2 separate regions of the Homo sapiens genome follow, and region 2 is linked to region 1. The links come from fine-mapping of genetic effects on plasma protein levels. Region 1 holds a variant in brackets. A gene starts in the other region. All regions are shown on their forward strands.

Region 1 (5,393 bases):
GAGACAGGGTTTTACCATGTTGCCCAGGCTGGTCTTGAATGCCTGAGCTCAAGCAATGCACCTGCTTTGGCCTCTCAAAGTGCTGGGATTACAGGCATGAGCTGCCATGCTCAGCCTGCTGATCTTACTGCTGGTATGGGTGCTTTTGTTGTTTTATCATCTGGAGGCACCAACCCTCCATACAAGCCATTGTTTTAATCAATCATGGCAAATGCTAAGACCCACATCAACCTGAGTCTGTATTTACTTAAAAGAAATACTCAAGACCCATATCCTAGATGACATTTTCCTGGATAGGCACTCACTGCTGGAGATTATGCTGCCTCAGATGACATCGATCCAGCTTACCGTCAGAGATGAATTTACCCCTGCACCAGACATGGCGTCACCCTAAACACAAAAACCTTCACCCCAGTGACACCCATGGACTGCCTCTTCTCAGGCACAAACTGCACACCGAACATTTGGCCTTTTTTCCTTTGATATCAGGGATTCTATTGTGTTTCTGAGTGTGCTGTCTGCTTAGCCTATCATCCTGGCATACTCCTTGCTCTCTGCCAAAACATACACCCCGCACTCCTATGCCTGAAGGAAAATTTAATAGTAGTTACCACTACCTACGTCATTCTAAGAATTAATGGAGGGCCAAGCACAGTGACTCATGCCTATAATTCCAGCACTTTGGGAGGCTGAGGCAGGACTGCTTAATCCCAGGAGTTCAAACCAGCCTGGGCAACATGGGGAGACCCCATCTCTACAAAACATATAAAAGTTAGCTGGGCATGGTGGTGTACACCTGTAGTCCCAGCTACTCAAGAGTCTGAGGCAGGAGAATCTCTTGATGTCGGGAGGTCAAGGCTGTAATGAGCTATGACCACACCACTGCACTCCAGCCTCGGTGACAAGGGCAAGACCCTGTGTCTAAAAAGATAACAAAAATTAATGGATAGTATTGCCTTTCTCTGAAGGCTGTTGCCTCCTGAGTCAATCCCTCAACCCACTGGGAAGAGGACCACTAACTCCCCAGTGCCTACCCCTACTACCCCCTCAAGCTTTCCCCCGTGACTTCCTGCCCTGTGTCTCTGACCATGACCACTCCTCCTTGGTTATACACACACGCTAGTCTACACATGCATTATTAATGTATTAGTTCCTATCCCCCAACAACCTGACTGCAGGACCTGTTTTATATAAAATATATATATATAAAATATATATATATTATATATATAAATATATATATAATATATATATATATGTATTTCAAACTTTTAACCCACTTTAAAACTCCACCAAGATAATAGTAAAAACCTCCAAAAATTTCAGATCTACTTTCTTGACTAATGACATGCAAATGAAGAACTTAGTTATGGACCAGCCTACAAGGGCTCTTTATACTTCCACATTGTTCTTCTATCTTACTCTTACAATAAAATATTTTCTAGGCTATTTAGGGCAACTGTACCCCATCCTTTAAATAAGTCCACTATTACCACCCCAGGTTTCTTACGATGATGCCAAATAGGCCCAGGGGCAATGGGTCTTACTGTGTTTTCCTAGGTTCTGTACTTGTCTATTTGGCATCCATTAATCACAGGGCCAAACTAATGGCCAACATTCTTTACATCCCCGCTGTGACCCAGAGCTCATACTCTAAGCTACTCACACATCGAGCCAATATTTTCCCTACCCTACATAAACCCAGGGCCATGTAACAGACAACTGGGGACCGTCCCTAGGCCCCAAAGCCCATCAGAATTATTCAAACTATTGAGTCCTAAGCTGTTCCCCCTGCCCAGCTGGACCTTTCCCACAGAAACCCTAATAATAAAGGTTCCGAATTAGATTTTCCCCTCACTTCTGCTCCTCTTTCCTTAACCAACTGGATGCTTTACCACATGACCCTGCATGACAGAGCAAGTCCCCTTCTCTTGGAACTATAAGTAATAAAGTCTTTTTTCAATGGCGCTAGTCCATCTGTGTTGACACTCAGTCACCTCCATAAATCAAAACTTCAAGAGTACATTTTCATATAATATTTTATCAGGCATCTGAAGGTTTCACCAAAGTTTATATTTTCCTACTGCAAAACTATGTTCCATGTAGATCTGGCCCATCTTGAGGCTATTGTTCCTGCGTTCATCCTCCCATGGTCACATTTCTTGGCCAACAGAACCATAGAAATTGGTCTGCCATGTGTTAACGTTTAGTCCAAATCATTTTTCCACTTTAGCTCTGCTTCAAATGGGGCTGGCCT[G/T]GTGATACTGGAGACAATAAATGCGCCTGTAAGTTCCAGATAACAGGCTCTTGTCATTTTCCCAATCTTTCCTCATTGCAATGTTCCACAGCTGTAGGTGTGCCAAGGCCTCTGGGTCCCAGTGTAGCACCTTGAATGCACAGTTCACACAGTGGTGGCTTCAGGGTGCCAGCCAGGAGGAGTTCTGGTGCACTCACTGTTTGATGATGGTGGTCTTCCCCATGCCCAGGTCACCCATCACCAGCAGCTGATACAGGCTGCCTGAGGTTCAGGGCTGGAAAGACTCCAAGAGTGTGAACATGCTCCCACTGTTTTAAGTTCTTTTTTTTTTTTTTAATTTTTATTATACTTTAAGCTCTGGGATACACGTGCAGAATGTGCAGGTTTGTTACATAGGTATACATGTGCCATGGTGGTTTGCTGCACCTATTGACCCATCCTCTGAGTTCCCTCCCCTCACTCTCCCCACCCCACAACAGGCCCTGGTGTGTGTTAATCCTTTCCCTGTGTCCATGTGTTCTCATTGTTCAGCTCCCACTTATGAGTGAGAACATGTAGTGTTTCATTTTCTGTTCCCATGTTAGTTTGCTGAGGATGATGGCTTCCAGCTTCATCCATGTCCCTGCAAAGGTCATGATCTCATTCCTTTTTATGGCTGCACAGTATTCCATGGTGTATATGTACCACATTTTCTTTATCCAGTCTATCACTGATGGGCATTTGGGTTGGTTCCATGCCTTTGCTATTGTAAATAGTGGGGCAATAAACATATGTGTGCATGTGTCTTTTTTTTTTTTTTTCTGAGACAGAGTTTTGCTCTTGTCACCCAGGCTGGAGTGCAATGGGGTGATCTTGGCTCACTGCAACCTCTGCCTCCCGGGTTCAAGCAATTTTCATGTCTCAGCCTCCCAAGTAGCTGGGATTACAGACGCCTACCACCACTCCCAGCTAATTCTTGTATTTTTAGTAGAAATGGGGTTTCACCATGTTGGCCAGGCTGGTCTCAAACTCCTGGCCTCAGGTGATCCACCCGCCTCAGCCTCCCAAAGTGCTGGGATTACAGGCATGAGCCACCGCGCCACGCCTGCATGTATCTTTATAGTAGAATGATTTACATTCCTTTGGGTATATACCCAGTAATGGGATTCCTGGGTCAAATGGTATTTCTGGTTCTAGATCCTTGAGGAATCGCCACACTGTCTTCCACAATGGTTGAACTAATTTACATTCCCACCAACAGTGTAAAAGCATTCCTATTTCTCCACAGCCTCGCCGTGCAGTGGAGACTTTTTAATAATCTTTCTTTTAATAAAAGATTATTTAAAAGTTTTAAATATTCTTTTAATAAAAGATTATTTAAAAGTTTTAAATAATCTTTTATCTTGACTTTTCAATAATCACCATTTGACTTGTGTGAGATGGTGTCTCATTGTGGTTTTGATTTGCATTTCTCTAATGATAAGTGATGTTGAGTTTTTTTTCATACGTTTGTTGGCTGTATAAATGTCTTCTTTTGAGAAATGTCTATTCATATCCTTTATCCACTTTTCAATGGGGTTGTTTTTTCCTTGTAAATTTGTTTAAGTTCCTTGTACATTCTGGGTATTAGACCTTTGTCAGATGGGTAGATTGCAAAAATTTTCTCCCATTCTGTAGGTTGTCCGTTCACTCTGATGGTGGTTTCTTTCCCTGTACAGAAGCTCTTTAGTTTAATTAGATCCCGTTTGTCAACTTTGGCTTTCGTTGCAATTGCTTTTGGTGTTTTTGTCATGAAGTCTTTGCCCATGCCTATGTCCTGAATGGTATTGCCTAGGTTTTCTTCTAGAGTTTTTATGGTTTTGAGTTTTGCATTTAAGTCTTTAATCTATCTTGAGTTAATTTTTGTATAAAGTGTAAGGAAGGGATCCAGTTTCAGTTTTCAGTTTGAGTCTTTAGTCCATCTTGGGTTAATTTTTGTATAAGGTGTAAGGAAGGGATCCAGTTTCAGTTTTCTGCATATGGCTAGCCAGTTCTCCCAGCACCATTTATTGAATAGAAGATCCTTTCCCCATTGCTTGTTTTTGTCAAGTTTGTAGAAGATCAGATGGTTATAGATGTGTGGTGTTATTTCTGAGGTCTCTGTTCTGTTCCATTGGTCTATATGTCTCTTTTTATGCCAGTACCATGCTGTTTTGGTTACTGTAGCCATGTAGTGTAGTTTGAAGTCAGGTAGCATAATGCCTCCAGCTTTGTTCTTTTTGTTTAGGATTATCTTAGCTATACAAGGTCTTCTTTGATTCCATATGAAATTTAATTTCATTTAATTCTGATTTGATTCCATATGAAATTCTGTGAAGAATGTCAATGGTAGTTTGATGGGAATAACATTGAATCTATAAATTACTTTGGGCAATATGGCCATTTTCATGATATTGATTCTTCCTGTTTATGAGGATGGAATGTTTTTCCATTTGTTTGTGTCTTCTCTTGTTTCCTTGAGCAGTGGTTTGTAGTTCTCCTTGAAGAGGTCCTTCACATCCCTTGTTAGCTGTATTTCTAGGTATTTTATTCTCTTTTTAGCGATTGTGAATGTGAGTTCACTCATGATTTGGCTCTCTGCTTGTCTATTGTTGGTGTAATGGAATGCTTGTGACTTTTGCACATTGATTTTGTATCCTGAGACTTTGCTGAAGTTGCTTATCAGCTTAAGGAATTTGGAGGCTGAGATGATGGGATTTTCTAGATATAAAATCATCTCATCTACAAATAAAGACAATTTGACTTCCTCTCTTCCTATTCGAATACCTTTATTTCTTTCTCTTGCCTGATTGCCCTGGCCGGAACTTCCAATACTATGTTGAATAGGAGTGGTGAGAGAGGGCATTCTTGTCTTGTGCCAATTTTCAAAGGGAATGCTTCCAGGTTTTGCCCATTCAGTATGATATTGGCTGTGGGTTTGTCATGAATAGCTCTTATTGTTTTGAGATATGTTTCATCAATACCCAGTTTATTGAGAGTTTTTAACATAAAGGGATGTTGAATTTTGTCAGAGTCTTTTTCTGCATCTATTGAGATAATCATATGGTTTTTGTCATTGTTTCTGTTTATGTGATGAATTACATTTATTGATTTGTGTTTGTTGAATCAGCCTTGCATC
Region 2 (5,393 bases), not on the chromosome of region 1:
ATGCAATTCCATTTATGATAGCCACAAAAACAATAAAATACATAGGAATACAGTCAACCAGGGAGGTGAAAGAGCTCTACAAGGATAATTACAAAACATTGCTTAAAGAAATCAGAGATGACACAAACAAATGAAAAACATTCCATGCTCATGGATCAGAATAATAAATATCATTAAAATGGTCATATTGCCCAAAGCAATTTACAGATTTAATGCTATTCCTATCATACTACCAATGACATTCTTCACAGAACTAGAAGAAAACTATTTTAAAATTCATCTGGAACAGAAAAATTAGCCCAAATAGCCAAGGCAATCCTAAGCAAAAAGAACAACACTGGAGGCATCACATTGCCCAACTTCAAATTATACTACAGTACTACAATATCCAAAATAACAAGGTACTGGTAAAAAAAAAAAAAAAAGCAGACACATAGACCATTGGAACACAATGGTCTAATGCAGACACATAGACCACTGGACAGAAAGCCCAGAAATAGTGCTGCACAACTACACCCATCTGATCTTCAGCAAAGCTGACAAAAACAAGCCATGGGAAAAGGATTCCCTTTTTAATAAATGGTGCTGAGATAACTGGCTAGCCACATGCTGAAGATTGAAAGTGGACCCCTTCCTTATACCATATACAAAGCTCAACTCAAGATGGATAAAATACTTATGTCTAAAACCCCAAAATATAAAAAACCCTGGAAGATAACCTAGGAATTACCATCCTGGACACAGGAATGGGCAAATATTTCATGACAAAGATGCCAAAAGCAATTGCAACAAAAGTGAAACAAAACAAAACAAACAAACAAAATAATTAACTGTAAGAGCTTCTGCACAGCAAGAGAAACTATCAACAGAGTGAACAGATAATCTACAGAATGGGAGAAAATTTTTGCAGACTATGCATTTGACAAAGGTCTAATATCCAGCATCTGTAAGAAACTTAAACCAATCAACAAGCAAAAAATAAACAACCCCATTAAAAAGTGGACTAAGGACATGAACAGATACTTTTCGTGTTTTATTTATCAATCTTAATTTACTTCTTATCCATTTGGAGTGTCAAATAATGGCCAAAGAAATTGTAATTATAAATTAAAGAACAAAATTTAGCAAGTAAAAATAAACAAAAATAACACAAAAATGTATTATCCTTTTACTTTTGTCATTAAGCAACAAATATATTTCTGATAATTTGTCAAATATTTTCTCCTTGAATTAATAGTTTATCTTATTTAAAAGGGTATATTGTGTTTTTAAAATTTTATTTTAAATTTGGGAGTACATGTGCAAATTTGTTACATAGGTAAACTTGTGTAATGGGGGTTTGCTGTAAAGATTATTTCTTCACCCAGGTATTAACCCTAGTACCCATTAGTTATTTTTCCTGATCCTTTCCCTCTTCCCACCCTCTATCCTCCAGTAGGCACTAATCATTAGGGAAATGCAAATTAAAACCACAGTAAGATACCATCTCATACCAGTCGAATGGCTATTATTAAAAAGTCAAAAAATAACAGATGCTGATGAGGTAGTGGAGAAAAGGGTTCACTTATACACCTTTGATGGGAGTGTAAATTAGTTCAACCATTATGAAAGATAGCATGGTGATTCCTTAAAGACCTAAAACCAGAAATTTGACCCAGCAATCCCATTACTGGTATATACCCAAAGGAATATAAATCTATCATAAAGACACATGCATGCATCTGTTCATGGCAGCACTGTTGACAATAGCAAAGACATGCAATCAACCTAAATGCCCATCAATGGTAGACTGGATAAAGAAAATGTGATACACATATACAAAGGAATACTATGCAGCTATAAAAAAGAATGAGATGATGTCCATTGCAGGAACATAGATGAAGCTAGAGGCCGTTACCCTTAACAAACTAATGGAGGAACAGAAAACCAAATACCACATGTTCTCACTAATAATTGGGATCTAAATGATGAGAACACATGTACACATAGAGGAGAATGACAGACACCGGAGCCTACTTGAAGGTGGAGGGTGAGAGGAGGGGCAGGATCAGAAAAACATAACTATGTAGTACTAGTCTGAATACCTGGGTGATGAAATAATATGTACAACAAACCCCTGTGACATGATTTTACCTATATAACAAACCTACACATGTAGCCCTGAACCTAAAAGTTAAAAAAAATCAAATTATACTGTTAAATTATTAGCATGATTTATAAACAATATTGTTTTAGGATAAAGAATTTAATTGCTTGGCAATTGCAAATTATTAAATTAAATATCAATATGTTAGGGAGGCTAATTCAAATGATATAAATATTTAGGCTATAACAAAAGGCAGCTATATATTATTAACCTCACCTCAAAAAGGGGCATAATTTCCATTCCCTTGACTTTAAGGGTAAATTAAGAGAAATTTGTAAAGCACTCAAAAGAATATTCAATTCAATATGTGGTGGACAGTTGAGAAATTATGTGTTATCTATGTCATGGGAAAGCAACTTTTAAAAAGAAAACATTTCCTCTGAGGTTTTCACAAATAAGTGAAACTGTGAACCCTCATATGTACTGTGAAAGGACAATTTGAGGAGCATCTCTGATTAGCAGCAGATTTATTATTCTTTCCTCATTTCATGTTATACTTAATAAAACAAAACATACCTGTATACACACACATTCACTCACATTGAAGATGCAAGATGAAGAAAGATACATGACATTGAATGTACAGTCAAAGAAAAGGAGTTCTGCCCAAACATCTCAACTTACATTTAAAGGTATGGAATTTAATTTCATTTTTTCAATTGGTGTGAATTAACATGGTAGTTTCCCGTATCCTGTTCCATTGTGTTATTGGACTGTTTCAGTATTTGGGTGCTTTTCTTTCTCCGTCTCTGTATCTCTCTCACCTGTCCTCTCTTTCAATATTAATAATGATTTAAAAATAACAACCTCTCTTACCATTTAAGAAACACCAGTTTCCGGCACTATACAGAATGTTTTATCTATGTTCCTTCATTTAATCTTACAAATTTACTATGAGATAATCTCTCTCTCTCCCATTTATCAATGTGGAACTAACACTTACTTGTAATATTTTGTCTGATATAATTTCTTAAGGACATTCTCTGAGGAAATATGCATACTCAATTAAAATTAATAATTTCAAATTAGTGAATATTTGCTGCCATTCACCTCCTTATCATTCATAGAATATGGTGTTTTAATGCTATTTTTTTTTTTTGAGACGGAGTTTCACTGTTGTTGCCCAGGCTGGAGTGCAATGGCATGATCTCGGCTCACTGCAACCTCTGCCTCCCAGGTTCAAGCAATTCTCCTGCCTCAGCCTCCTGAGTAGCTGAGATTATAGGTGCCCGCCACCATGCCTGGCTAATTTTTTGCGTTTTTAGTAGAGATGGGGTTTTACCATGTTGGCCAGGCTGGTCTTGAACTCCTGACCTCAGGTGATCCACCCACCTGAGTCTTCCAAAGTGTTGGGATTATAGGCATGAGCCACCGCGCCCAGCCTTTAATACTAATTTTTAATTCAACTTCTCAAAAACTTTATGCTTTTCACCAAGTTGACTCAAAATAAAGTTTATACACCAGCAATCAACATTTTAATTTGCTACTTCAAGCATACCCTCCATACACAATGCAATTCCATCATGCCACCTTAATGTGATTTGGCAAAAGAGATAAGCAGAAATTAAAGACACAAATAATCACAGTTATAGAGACTGTCTGTTCTGTTCTGTTGCTTTCTAAATATTTCTCTTTTAATAACTTCACCCATGAAAATTTTACTTATCTCTTGAGTCCTTCCACAAGTATCATCCATCAGTGATTCATCTTAGAGTTACATACGTGCTATGTATAAGAAATTTATTGCCTCTTCCATGTGAATTTTTAGATTCCCATATTTTCAAGTCTTTACTTCCTACACTCAATTTTTATTTCATTTTTGGAAATTAGAGATATTAAACCTGAAAGACTACAACATGTAGTGACTTCTCTGCAGACTTTTTTCCACACTCTGTTCATAAATGTCTCTCTGAAGCAAAAATGTGCAGATTTTCGGCTCCCAGATATTTAAGTGACACATACTAATATTTATGTCTTGTACCTTTAGCTAATATTTATTAAAGCTTGAGGTAAGACGTATTTTATGTGAATTAGATTGACAATGTGAGCCTTGGGGTTATGATGTTCATTCATTTAACTTAATTTTGTGATGACATATTTGTAAATCTTTTCTCATATATTGAAAAACCTTTGTTGCCAGTGATAGTAAGAAATTACATAATTGCTCTATCCCACTATACATATGTAGTAGTTTCAGAATCACTATAGAAATAATATTATAATAATAGTTACTTAAAACAGATTAAAATGTTTTGCGGTTTTAAAAAATCCTTAAGATATATTCCATTGAGCATGCACAGTTAAATGTTTTAAAATCACTTTAAGTAATTCCTCTCTCTATAGTGAAGACACTAACAATACCTAGTTAGATTCCTTTTCTTCATTTTTTATGGATTTTTTTTCATTTTTGTTTAACTTACTTTATAGTAGCATAAAACATTTACATATTTTCAGTCAAACTTATATAATGAGGGGCCAAGTGTGGTGGCTCATGCCATTAATCCCAGCACTTTGGAAGGCCGAGGCAGGATGATCGCTTGAGGCCAGGAGTTCAAGACCTGCCTGGGCAACAAATCAAGACCCCCATCTCTACAAACAATAGAGATAAAAAAATTAATCAGTCATGGTGGCACATGCCTGTAGTCCTAGCTACACAGGGTGCTCAGGAGGGAGGATCTCTGAGCCCAGGAGCTCAAGGTTACAAAGAGCTCTAATGGTGCCACTGCACTCCAACCTGAGCAACAGAGCGAGACCCTGTCTCAAATAAATAAATAAGAATTTAAAAAGTTTAAAAAATTACTTTCAGAGAAATCCACCTTGCATAAATCCAGCACCCTTCATAAAATTTACCATTTTGTATTTCTATATTTCCAGTGTTTACTTAGCTATTCTCACTCTTTTGTTCTTTCAGATAACTTTATAAAAAATTATTCAGGCTCACTCACCACAAACAACAACAAATAAAACAACCCGATGTAGCTTTTACGTCTAAATTACTTCCTAGTCTGTCATTAAGCTTAGGGAGAATTTATATTTTTGACACATAGTTTTCTTATCCAAGCACATGATCAAATTAATGTTACTCAGTTTTCGGTTAGTTTTGTTTTGTTTTGTTTGTATTGGGTTGGGACACTTGTCGAGTTTCTGTCTAGTTTTCTTTTTGTTTGTTTTTTTTGGTTAACTATCCGTGAGTAATGAATTTCTTTCATCTATGTTTTCACAGTGGTTACTGGATTATACAGGGCAC

Alleles and levels. Alleles are on the strand shown, and positions count from the first base shown. The strength of an association depends on the size of the effect and on how common the allele is.
For the plasma level of the protein whose gene starts at base 2,630 in region 2, allele G in region 1 goes with a higher level than allele T (moderate association).

What was found. PIP is the chance, under the fine-mapping model, that this variant and not a neighbour inherited with it causes the effect. Protein levels are from antibody-based Olink assays in UK Biobank. Linkage for the fine-mapping came from a reference panel and not from the study's own genotypes, which makes the PIPs less certain.
Region 2: it holds the start of KLRF1, and the variant in region 1 is fine-mapped to the plasma level of the KLRF1 protein (UK Biobank, PIP 0.98).

What each region holds. Positions count from the first base shown.
Region 1 is chr17:35,468,095-35,473,487 of GRCh38, forward strand. It overlaps SLFN12L (schlafen family member 12 like), which reads right to left. Exons shown (of 5, transcript NM_001363830.2): 5 at 1-5,393. Among named protein-coding and RNA genes, the nearest start is that of SLFN13, 22 kb to the left of the region's middle. The variant G/T (reference allele first, on the strand shown) is at 2,258.
Region 2 is chr12:9,824,852-9,830,244 of GRCh38, forward strand. It overlaps KLRF1 (killer cell lectin like receptor F1), which reads left to right and starts at 2,630. Exons shown (of 6, transcript NM_016523.3): 1 at 2,630-2,778. The coding sequence starts at 2,694.